Linked DNA regions of Homo sapiens: region 2 is linked to region 1. A link means that fine-mapping ties the variant in region 1 to the expression of a gene that starts in the linked region. Tissue or cell type: blood mononuclear cells. Region 1 holds a variant in brackets; the other region holds the start of a gene. All regions are shown on one strand. Distances are from middle to middle.

Evidence for each region. PIP is the estimated chance that this variant, and not a neighbour inherited with it, causes the effect.
Region 2: MAPK6 starts here. The variant in region 1 is fine-mapped to the expression of MAPK6 in blood mononuclear cells (TOPMed, PIP above 0.99).

What each region holds. Positions count from the first base shown.
Region 1 is chr15:52,062,284-52,068,729 of GRCh38, forward strand. MAPK6 (mitogen-activated protein kinase 6) reads left to right here. Exons shown (of 6, transcript NM_002748.4): 6 at 1,619-5,092. The coding sequence ends at 2,717. All of the region lies in intron 1 of LOC112268150 (a long non-coding RNA gene), which reads right to left. Among named protein-coding and RNA genes, the nearest start is that of MAPK6, 46 kb to the left of the region's middle. The variant ATACTT/A (reference allele first, on the strand shown) is at 3,459.
Region 2 is chr15:52,016,979-52,022,817 of GRCh38, forward strand. MAPK6 (mitogen-activated protein kinase 6) reads left to right here and starts at 2,241. Exons shown (of 6, transcript NM_002748.4): 1 at 2,241-2,398. It overlaps MAPK6-DT (MAPK6 divergent transcript), which reads right to left and starts at 2,117. Exons shown (of 2, transcript NR_156732.1): 1 at 1,721-2,117. RefSeq lists enhancers at 1,842-1,911, 3,252-3,301 and silencers at 2,082-2,191, 2,492-3,001.

The sequences.
Region 1 (6,446 bases):
CCCACAGTGCTGAAATTATAGGCGTGAACCACCGTACTCAGCCAGTATTTGAATCTGTTTTCCTAATGACACAATTAATTTGGGGACACTTAACATAGGTTCAGTAAAAGAGACTTTTTTAGGTCTAAACATTAGTGTATAATGTTATCCATATTTTGATGTTTCATAAAGTGAAATAATTGGATTTCTAGGAAAGTTTGGCTGGGCGCGGTGGCTCATGCCTGTAATCCCAGCACTTTGCGAGGCTGAGGCAGGCCAATTACCTGTGGTCAGGAGTTCGAGACCAGCCTGGCTAACGTGGTGAAACCCGGTCTCTACTAAAAATACAAACATAAGCCAGGCTTGATGGCGGGCTCTTGTAGTCCCAGCTACTCAGGAGGCTGAGGCAGGAGAATCACTTGAACCTGGGAGGCAGCAGTTGCAGTGAGCCGAGATTGCACCACTGCACTCCAGCCTGGGCGACAGAGCAAGACTCCGTTTCAAATAAATAAATAAATACATTTCTGGGGAAGTTTAGATATAATTCTGCTTCAGAGTAGGATGGTAGCTTATAGAGTCATCAGGTGATTTTGATGCTTCAGAGTAGGATGGTAGCTTATAGAGTCATCAGGTGATTTTGATGTATGGCCAAGTTTGGGAACCACTAATGCCAATCTTTTTAATCTTAAGATTTTAAGAAGAAATTTTTTTCCCCCTCCTCAAATGTTGATGTATTGGTATGGTATGTTTACACAAATCTGCAAACTACTTTTTTTCTCCATGTGTCCATTTCTACCCCCTAAATAATGGTTCTTTTCTTTTTTGAGACGGAGTCTCACTCTGTTGCCAGGCTGGAGTGCAATGGTGCCCATCTCTCTGCTCACTGCAACCTCCTGAGTTCAAGCAGTTCTCCTGCCTCAGCCTCCCTACTAGCTGGGACTATAGGCACCCGCCACCATGTTCAGCTAATTTTTGTATTTTTAGTAGTGGGGGTTTCACCATGTTGGCCAGGCTGGTTTCAAACTCCTGACCTCAAGTGATCCATCCACCTTGGCCTTCTTGAAGTGCTAGCATTGCAGGCCTGAGCCACTGCACCTGACCTGCATTTTCTATTTTACCTAGCTAAGTTATCTAATCTCTTTTCTTTTCCCTCAATGATTATACATGTCAGTAATAGGATAGCGCATTCAGCAGCACGTATACACAGGGAGATTTTTGCTATTCATGGTGATGAGTTTTCCAGCAAACCTCCTCCTCTTCTAGTTGCCCTTACTGTAGAGTAAACATTTAGCAAACCTCCTCCTCTTCTAGTTGCCCTTACTGTAGAGTAAACATTTGTAAGGTACCTGATTGAGATTTGAGATCTGCATTTTGTGGCTATGAAGTCTTTTGTTTGCATGGAACTGGTGGACAAAAAACAAATTGGAAATGAAGTTACATACTGCATTGGCAATTACCAAATATATTAACAGAGCTTTCCTATCAAGACTAAGTTCTGGTAGGGCAAGGCAGGCATATTTACTCTCCTATAATTATCCCCTCATAGACCTAGCACAGTGCTGTCACATAGAAGGTACTCGGTGAATTTGAAAATGAAATCATATACGTAGAATAACGCTAGTGTATTGATTTTTTTCAGGTATCATGATTGTCAGTTTTCAGAGCATGATTGGCCTGTACATAACAACTTTGATATTGATGAAGTTCAGCTTGATCCAAGAGCTCTGTCCGATGTCACTGATGAAGAAGAAGTACAAGTTGATCCCCGAAAATATTTGGATGGAGATCGGGAAAAGTATCTGGAGGATCCTGCTTTTGATACCAATTACTCTACTGAGCCTTGTTGGCAATACTCAGATCATCATGAAAACAAATATTGTGATCTGGAGTGTAGCCATACTTGTAACTACAAAACGAGGTCATCATCATATTTAGATAACTTAGTTTGGAGAGAGAGTGAAGTTAACCATTACTATGAACCCAAGCTTATTATAGATCTTTCCAATTGGAAAGAACAAAGCAAAGAAAAATCTGATAAGAAAGGCAAATCAAAATGTGAAAGGAATGGATTGGTTAAAGCCCAGATAGCGCTAGAGGAAGCATCACAGCAACTGGCTGGAAAAGAAAGGGAAAAGAATCAGGGATTTGATTTTGATTCCTTTATTGCAGGAACTATTCAGCTTAGTTCCCAGCATGAGCCTACTGATGTTGTTGATAAATTAAATGACTTGAATAGCTCAGTGTCCCAACTAGAATTGAAAAGTTTGATATCAAAGTCAGTAAGCCAAGAAAAACAGGAAAAAGGAATGGCAAATCTGGCTCAATTAGAAGCCTTGTACCAGTCTTCTTGGGACAGCCAGTTTGTGAGTGGTGGGGAGGACTGTTTTTTCATAAATCAGTTTTGTGAGGTAAGGAAGGATGAACAAGTTGAGAAGGAAAACACTTACACTAGTTACTTGGACAAGTTCTTTAGCAGGAAAGAAGATACTGAAATGCTAGAAACTGAGCCAGTAGAGGATGGGAAGCTTGGGGAGAGAGGACATGAGGAAGGATTTCTGAACAACAGTGGGGAGTTCCTCTTTAACAAGCAGCTCGAGTCCATAGGCATCCCACAGTTTCACAGTCCAGTTGGGTCACCACTTAAGTCAATACAGGCCACATTAACACCTTCTGCTATGAAATCTTCCCCTCAAATTCCTCATCAAACATACAGCAGCATTCTGAAACATCTGAACTAAAACACTCAGCAGACATTTATCTTTGTATTCTTCATGAAATGTGTTTTGTCTTTTTTTATTACTAGTGTTTAAGTCATTTTTTACTTGAATCAGATGGTGTCATTTAGTAAGGATTTTATGAGTTCTTGTTTTTTAAAATCCAGACTTTCTTTTTCTACATGTGAGATAGTTTTCATTTTAACTGGCATGTCATTTGCACACAAAAATAAAGACTAGAGCAAAATAATGCAACGCAGGAGGAGAAAAGAAATGCACTAAGACAAGAACATTCTCTCATAGAACATTGATCTGTTTTACAGGAAACAAACCTTGCCTTGAAATTTACACAGTGAGACTGTACATAATTGCATGAAAATAGCTATTTTTTTCCTAAGACATTTTTCATTCATGAATATTTTCAAGTTTTTCATACTGTACACATTTCTTAAAACACATGATACCAGCAGCAACTGAAAATGAATGCCGAATTTGGTACACATGTGTTATCTACCTCAAGGTAACAAGAGTATGTGGCAAAACATATACCACCCATAGTGCTTCACAAAATGCACTTCTATTTAGCCAGCGTTTATTGTAGTAAACTATTCTTAATAAAACTCACTCACTGTTTATAAATGTTCTGGTATGCATTCTTTATAGTGAAGTGTTAATACATCACATCTTATTTATTTTAGCAAATCAGTATATTTTCTGTATTTAATTATAAAAAATTAACTTAGTTTTTAAAATTTATTTGCAAAT[ATACTT/A]TACTTTTTCCATTTGGCACTATGGTTTGTTGCCTACCTAGCTGCATCTATAATGTCAGCTTATCCTAAGGCTGTCCACGTACTTAATTTACTTAAGTGTTCATTTTAAGTAACGTGCTCACTGTGTATAGGAATTTGTATTTTGGAGGTGCTTGATCTATCTACAAAGAAAAATTAATTAGGAATTACTTTATTATAAAATGCTCCTAGAAGTCTTAATTGTGTTTATTTTTTAAAAAAACAAATGTTAGACTTGTGTGCATGGAAGTAATTAAGGTACATCATTATTGTAGTTTGAAAGTTGTACATGATAAGACATTTTGTTTTTACTGTATGTTTTTACTGAATGATCTATTCCCCATCCCAAGGCAAGCATGAATAAAATTAGGTTAAACGTAGCATGTGGCATCGCAGTCTCTTAGAATTTGTTTCATCTATTTTATTTTATTGAATACTGTCTGTATCTTTGGTTATCCTGTTTGAAGAAAAAGGACAAATAAAACATGGCCAGCAAATACAGCTCCTGTTTCACTCTTGGGTTAATGAAAATTTTCTGCTAGAATGAAAATTACTACCAGAATCACTTTGAATTATGGCCATAAATTGCTAGTCTGAAAGGCTGAGAAGGTTCAAGTCTTTTGACTTAAACCATCACATATTAGAATGGAATAAAGCTTTATAATATTTCAAAACTGTTAGGTAAAATGTGTAGTTGAAACTTTGAACTGTGCAGTCAGAAAACTTGAGATTTGCTCTGTAATACATCTTTGCGTAAGAACTTACCCTTTTACCTATCCAGCTACAAAACCATCCTCTTCACCTCACTTTTCTTTCATCCTTGTTTTGTACAACACCAATTCTATTAATATCTGCCCACCTACCTTCTCAACAACTCCATCCTCTTCACCTCACTTTTCTTTCATCCTTGTTTTGTACAACACCAATTCTATTAATATCTGCCCACCTACCTTCTCAACAACTGACTTCATCTGGATTCACAAAGCCATATATATACACGTGTGTGTGTGTGTGTGTGTGTGTGTGTGTATATATATTCATTTATTTATTTTCTGGTTGAATACTGTCACGTTATTAATTTAAACATACTCAAATTACCTTAAGAGGACAAGCTCTGAAGTGCAGTCATGAGAATTGATTTGTGGGGAAAAAAAAAATGGGACACTTTTAGTTGGAGCTGGGTGGGGTGACAAGTGCAGAGGCTTTGAGTGTCATGAGAGCATCAGACAGGATGTAAAGGAAGCAACGGGCAGCAGACATTGGTCCCTGATCCTCCATTATAACCAATTTTTTGCAAACGTATGTTGATTTTGAGAATAATTAGCTTTGACTCTAAAATGCTGTCTTCCCTGAAGGAGACCTAGGATTTTTCTTACTGGGAAACTTGGCTCCTGGACTTAATCCACATTCGTTAAACTGTCACCTTGGCAGTTTAGTGGCCATCTACACAATGATCTGACTTGTTGGCATTAAAAAGTCCAAACATAGTCATCAAAGGAAGAAGAAAGTAAAACTGAAACCCCTTATATAAAATATGCTTGCTTTAGGGTGACCCAGGCTGAGTACTAAGTTGTAAAGTCAATTTCCAATAAAAATTTTATGTGCCAATTACTTTGTCTCCACTTGCAATCAAAGTATCTTTATAGGGTAATGAAGATGAAATACTCCAAGAGGCAAAGTCTTTCTTTCTCTGCCACCCAGGCTGAAGTGCAGTGGTGTGATCACAGCTCACTGCAACCTTGAACCTAGGCTCAAGTGATCCTCCCACCTCAACCTCTTGAGTACCTAGGAGTAGCTGGCACCTTTGTTAAAGATCATTTGACCATATAGATGAGAATTTATTTCTGGGTTCTCTACTCTGTCTCTTGTCACAGTTTTTGACTGTTTTTTTCCTTTGAGACAGGGTCTTACTCTCTGGCCCAGGCTGCAGTACAGTGACATGATCATAGCTCACTGCAACCTTGACTTCCCAGGCTCAGGCAATCCTGCCTCAGCCTCCTGAGTAGCTGGAGCCACAGGCATGAATCAACATGCCCAGCTAGTTTTTACATTTTTTATAGTACTTTTAAAATTTGTTTATAGAGACAGGGTCTCCCCCATGTCACCCAGGCTGGTCTTGAACCCCTGGGCTCAAGCAATCTTCCTCAGCCTCCCAATGTGCTGGAATTACAGGTGTGAGCCATTGTGCCTGGCGGTAAAGCATTTTTTTCTGACATGAGTATGGCCACCCCTGCTCTATTTTATCATTTGCCTGATAGCTTTAGTTTTAATTGCTACACCACAACGTATTTCTTAAATGACATCTTCCAAAATTTTGCTTCTACCAACATCTTTGCAGTGAGAATTCTTGTGAACATGTGTAAGAGTGTCTTTAGGGCAGATACATAGGAGTAGAGTTGCTACATATCTTCAAGTCTATGAAGATGCCATGTCCCTGTCCAAAAGTGATTGTACTGACTCACATTCCTGCCAGCAATGCACAAGAGTTCTTATTCATCCACATGCCTCCAAGCAAGAAACCAAGTTTCTTCCATTGAATTAATCCTACCAGCTTTGCAATGTTCAGTTTACAGTAGGAATCAGGATTTCTAATTCCAAACAACTGCATGGCTGGAAATCATGACTACACCTTAGGGATCCTTAAGTAGCCACTTCAATGTGAGATTGCCTTGTTTCTCATTTCCTATTGCTCCAGCCACTGCAGCTTGGGAACAGAGGCTTTAAATCTTAAAGGCTGAGCCAATTATGTCATTACACTGGGGTCCATACCTAAGGAGAAGTAGATCATGAATCAAATCGGGTTTTCAAATAAAATCCAAGCAAACATCACCTTTGCTTCTCAGTTAAGACACCTGCATAGTATTGGTTATGAAATTATTTGCAAGCACTGTTTTCCATTTGATACTTTGGTGTGTTTTATATAGAGCACATTTAGTTAGTGATCTAGTCAGCAAGTGGACCGTTG
Region 2 (5,839 bases), 46 kb before region 1:
GAGCAGAGGTTGCAGTGAGCCAAGATTGCACCACTCTGCACTCCAGCCTGGCGACAGACCGAGGCTCTGTCTCAAAAACAAACAAACAAACAAACAAACAAAAACCAGATCCCCCAAATCTTGTAATTATTCCATCCTTGACCTCCCCTTTGTCTCACGTGTCCGTGTGAAGAGACCACCAAACAGGCTTTGTGTGAAAAACAAGGCTGTTTATTTCACCTGGGTGCAGGCGGGCTGAGTCTGAAAAAGGAGTCAGCAAAGGGTGGTGGATTATCATTAGTTCTTACAGGTTTTGGGATAGGCAGTGGAGTTAAGAGCAATGGTTTGGGGGCAGGGGGTGGATCTCACAAAGTACATTCTCAAGGGTGGGGAGAGTTACAAGGAATCTTCTTAAGGATGGGGGAGATTATAAAGAACCTTCTTAAGGGTGGGGGAGATTACAAAGTACACTGATCAGTTAGGTTGGGGCAGAAATAAATCACAATGATGGAATGTCATCAGTTAAGGCTATTTTCATTTTTTTTGTGGATCTTCAGTTGCTTCAGGTCATCTGGATGTATATGTGCAGGTCACTGGGGATACGATGGCTTAGCTTGGGCTCAGAGGCCTGACACCCTTTTGAAATGCTACAAAGATTCTGTCAATTTAGTGGTCTCCCTTACTATTGTAAGCCAACTTTGCATTATCCACAGGAAGTCAGCAGTGACACTGGATTAAATGCTCCTTGAGGGAAGGCACAGTGCTTGGTATTTATTCTCCCACCTTCTCTGGGTGATCAGACATTGATGGAAAAGGAAGGTAAACGAGTTCTCAAAGAGTGAGAGGAAAAATGTCCTGAGGATCAGAGGAGAGCCTAGAGCAGAGGCAGTGGGGCTGAAGGTACGAGCTCTCGTTGCAGAAGCTGGAAATTCTGCGGTTGGAACAAGTCTCCCCTTTCTCTTGGTTTTTTTCACTCATTACCTCTTCTTCACACCTGGTACTCAGCTGACGTTGTTTTAAATATTAAAAAATATAAAGCATTCAAGCTCACCCCAACCACTTAACTTCATTACTCTGTGATTTTTTTTTTTGAGACAGAGTTTCGCCCTTTCGCCCAGGCTGGAGTGTCCTGGCGCGATCTCGGCTCACTGCAACCCCCCGCGGGGTTCAAGCTATTCTCCTGCCTCAGCCTCCCGAGTAGCTGGGATTACAGGTGTGAGCCACCACACCCGGCTACTTTTTGTATTTTTAGTGGAGACGGGGCTTTCACCATGTTGGCCATGCTGGTCTCGAACTCCTGGCCTCAGGTGATCTGCCCGTCTCGGCCTCCCAAAGTGCTAGGATTACAGGCGTGAACCACCACGCCTGGCCCTTTGTGATCTTTTTGAAGTGGTCTTTGCCTCTTTCTTGAAGATGCCCATAATAATGACTAGAAGGGCTATTCTATGTCTGGTTCTCAGCAAGATGGTGATGAAGTCATTGAAAAAATATGCTGACCTGCGTCTCTAATTTCATAAATACTTAAATTTCACATAAACACTGAAAAGGCTCCTTGGACTCAATAAGCCATGATAAGTAATGTAAGTTTGCTTTTAGCCAAGTGGGCCCAAGAAGGCACCCATCCACCTTTCTACGTTTCATAGTGCATCCCTTCCCAAATTCAAATTGTCCTATCCCAGTTCCTGCAACAAGCCAGGTACTCTGGCCTCCCAGTCTTTGCTCACAGAAACACCCTCCCCACCTCCTGGTTATATCCGCTCCTCCGGGATCCAGCTGAAAGGCCACCTTGGCGACCACTCCTGAAAGCCTTCCTCCATACTCTGGCAGAATGAATGACCTTAGTATTGGCCTCTAACGCGTCTGTCTTGTGCTCGGGCTGTCGCCTTCCAGCCAATCCATCTTAAGGTCCACCCTTCCTGGAGACTGAGGCCTCTTCCTCTCGGATTGCCCAGTGCCTTGCACGTAGTAGGTGCTTAGTAAACGCTGGCACTGGGTTTGGTCACTTTGTTCCCTTAATGCCAGGGCAGGTAGTAGAGCAAACGGCCCCAGCTGTCTTCCTCCCTGCCCGCCCGCAGGCAAAGCCCCCAGGAGACGCCGGACGAGCCGCGTGCCTTTCCCACCGCCTCCGCGGCGCGCGCAGCCCAGTCACGGGCGCTGGAAATTCCGGCGCGTGCGGGTGCGCTGGGCAGGGCGGGGGCGGGAGAACCCGTGGAGTGAGCCTGTGACGTGAGGGGGCGTGGCACCGCGAAGCCCCGCCCCCTCTTCCTCGCCCTCTCTCGCGGGTCGGGGTTACATGGCGGCGACTGCGGCAAAGCGAGAGCCTCGGAGACGCCGCTGCCGCCAGCACAGCCGGAGACCTGAGCCGACACTGGGGGCAGTCCGCGAGCCCCGCACTCTCTCGATGAGTCGGAGAAGTCCCGTGAGTGTGTGTGTGTACGTGTGCGGGGTGCGCCGGCGGGGCGGCTCGGGAGGGCGCCGCGGCGGGCCCGGCGGCGGCGGCGGCGGCGGCGACGGCGGAGCCGGCTCCCTCCTCCATTGTGTGTGACCCTCCGGCGGCTGCCGCTCAACAAAGGCGTTTTTGTTCGGTCTGCCGCCCGCCCCCTGCTCGCCCGCCTGCCCGCCCGCTCGGGCCTGGCCGGCGCGTCCCCGCGCGGGCGGGCGGGCGGCGGGCTGGGGTCCCCGCGTGGGGCCGGCCAGGCGGCCAGCGCGCCCCTCCCACCCGGCACGCCCCTCGCCGGTCGCCCTGCCAGGCCGCGCCCGCTCCCTGGCCCCGCACGCCTGCTGCCGTCCCGCCGCCTGCGCCTGGCTCCGCGGGTTCGAAACCCAGCCGGACCGGACCGGAGGGCGGGCGAGCGAGGGGCGGCGGCCCGGGGAACATGAGGTGGCGTGGAGTCTCGCCTTACTGGCACGCTGCCTTTCGAAATGCTCCCGCGTCTCCTCCCCCATCCCACCCGGTGACTCGGCCTCAGCTGACTCCGGCCGGGCAAAGTCTCCAGTGGCGTAGCGCGCAGCGCTCACCCGGCTCGTCTCAGAGCCCTGAAGTCCGCCCAAGTTTTGAGTCTTGCCATGAATGAGGTACTGAAAACTCGGAGACGAAATTCCTAATTTCCTCCCTCGGCCCTACAGTCTTTCCTTAGCTTCTTTCGGGACCTTAAGTGGTGGTCTGTAAAAGTGCCCAAATGAAAGCTTGTTTTGTCGGTTCACCAAAAAGGGCCTTGTCACTTTGCTGTGCATTTTAGTCCGCCTTGTGAGTTGTGTCGAAAAGTAAAGGTGTTTTGGCATCCTTTTGTTTCTTGGCGAGTGTAGGACCCAACCGGTTTAGGTGTTAGGGGGATCTCTGTGCAGCGGGAGCTTCTTGATTCCTTTCCTGTTTTATTTTTTCTTTTGCTTGTTCATTGGAAAAGGTCCAGTGAAAGGGACTGGTGAGTTGGAATTAGAAGCCTACTTGTATTAACGGCAGAATTCGTGTTCATTGCTAAAGATGCAGTCTCAGTAATGACTTTTTTTTTTTTAACGGATACAGATGATTTGTCAAGGGGAAAAATTAACACGCCATACAATGAAGAGCAAGCAGCTTCAGAGTAATTTTCTGATGGCTGATTCTTCTAGCCTGTCTCTTACAGTTCCAATTGCACATGTCCTCCCTCTTTAACGCTGGAAAACTGAGATGGAAAGAATGATCTGACCAGAAGAATGTAGGGTCCAAACAGGGCCTGGCCCTGAAATCAGGAATTTCTTCATAGAAATATCAGATTTTAATGTTTAAAAAATAATTTTGAATTGGGTGAAAGGAACTTTGTCTTTAGATAGTAGTTGTTCAAACATGTTTATGAAGTGTTTGCTATGTGCCAGGGATTGTAAAGTCATTTCACATATGTTACATCATTTATTAAGAATTGCCTTAAGCTTGTAAAATTATTCATTGATGTCCTGAATTCAGTAATTGCAGTTAATCTAGAAAATATGCCAGATTTGAGCAGAACATATTTGATCACCTAGGTATTACTGTTGAGAAGAAAACACTGGAAAATGGAGACTATTTTAGAAAAAACTTCGTATATGAGGATATTCTGGAATTCATTTATTTGCAAAAGAGGATTAGAAGTAGTCGTTGGCTACTTTCTGTTATTAAAAAATCCAGAGAAGAGTGATTTGAAGTCAGTTAATTTTGTAATAAAAAAATGCACACATTCTAAAGACTAATGTTAGCACTAAAAGTGTTGCAGTGCTTTACATAAATTCATTTAAAGCATCGTGAGAATCATAACTGACAAAATAGTAAGGTTTGCTGACTCAGGGTACTTTGCTGAAGGGGATGGGGGTCGGGTAGGAGGAAGCTTACAAGTGCTGCTGCAAGTTTTGAGTTGGATGATGACTCATGCTGCCCACGGACTGCTACGTGGCTTTTTTTTTTTTTTTTTTTAAATACACTGTATTTTTTTCTAAATGATAGGCTAAAATGTTCCTGTCCACATTGAAATTCTCTCTCATTTTTTCTGAAGAGGAACAGCAGTTTCTCTAAAAAAGTAATGGCTTCTTAAATTGCATTTTAAAAGGATATCATATACCCTACAGGTGGAATTGTGTAACATTTGCTGAGAGGAAAGGTAAAACCAATTTCTGGTCAGGTGCTGAAATTAAATGTTTGATACTAGCAGTTTTTTGGCTACTGCTGAGAGAGATTTGTTACAGGTTGTTTATAAAGGACAGATAGTACTTTTATGGTGTCGGTAGAAATTGACCTTATGTTTTTATTGGTTATGTGAAAGTTATCTTTATATTTAATATTTAATCAGATATGGCTCTGAATATGAAAGTTTCACTCAGAATTATTAAAACATAATTATATATTGTGCTTTGTGATTTATGTGAATTTTCTGTTTTAATAAAGACAATTTGAAATAGGTATTAGTCACTATTTTTCATGGTTTTTTTTTAAAGATAAGCTGAATGTACAGTTCTAAGTTGAAACTTGGTAATAAGATAAATCTTTTGACTGATTTTAAAACAGCCAACGTTTAGCAAGGTGGCTTAAAATAAGATTGAGAGGGGGAAAAAGATTGAGAATGGCAGTTTAAGAGTGGGGCTGGGTGCGTTGGCTCACACCTGTAATCCCGGCACTTTGGGAGCCTGAGGTGGAAGGATCGCTTGAGGCCAGGAGTTCAAGACCAGTCTGGGCAACATAACGAGACCCTGTCTCAATTTTTAAAATAAAAGAAAAAAAATTTCCCACCCCATCCTCTGGTTTTTCTGTGTATACTGTTTATTTTTCCAAAGGGATTTGAGGAGTTTGTGGACAGTAAAGTGTTTGTTGTTTTTGTGAGACAGGGTCTTGCTCTGTCACCCTGGCTGGAGTGTAGTGGTGCGATCACTGTTCACTGCAACCTCTACTTCCCGGGCTCAGGTGATCTTCCTGCCTCAGCCTCCGGAGGAGCTGGGACTACAGCTGTGTGCGACCATGCCTGGCTAGTTTTTCGTATTTTTTGTAGAGATGAATGTTCACAGTGTTGCCCAGGCTGTTCTTGAACTCCTGGGCTCAAGCAATCTGCCTGCCTCAGCCTTCCAGAGTGTTGGGATTACAGGTGTGAGCCCCTGCTCCCAGCCCATAAAATGTATTGTTAATGTGAATTAAATTTTTGGAACTATTTTGGAAGAGTATTGCATGATTTATACCTAGAGGTTTTTTTTTTACAAAGTTTAATTCAAACTTAAAAAAAATTTCCTACTAGAGGAAACATAAAAATACAAATATAAAAGTATTGAAAATTTTCAGAGCATCACATTACTTAGAGGTTTAACGTATTTTCGGCATTGTTTTCAAATATAGGTAATTAGCTGTAGTGCATAATTCAGAGTTTAA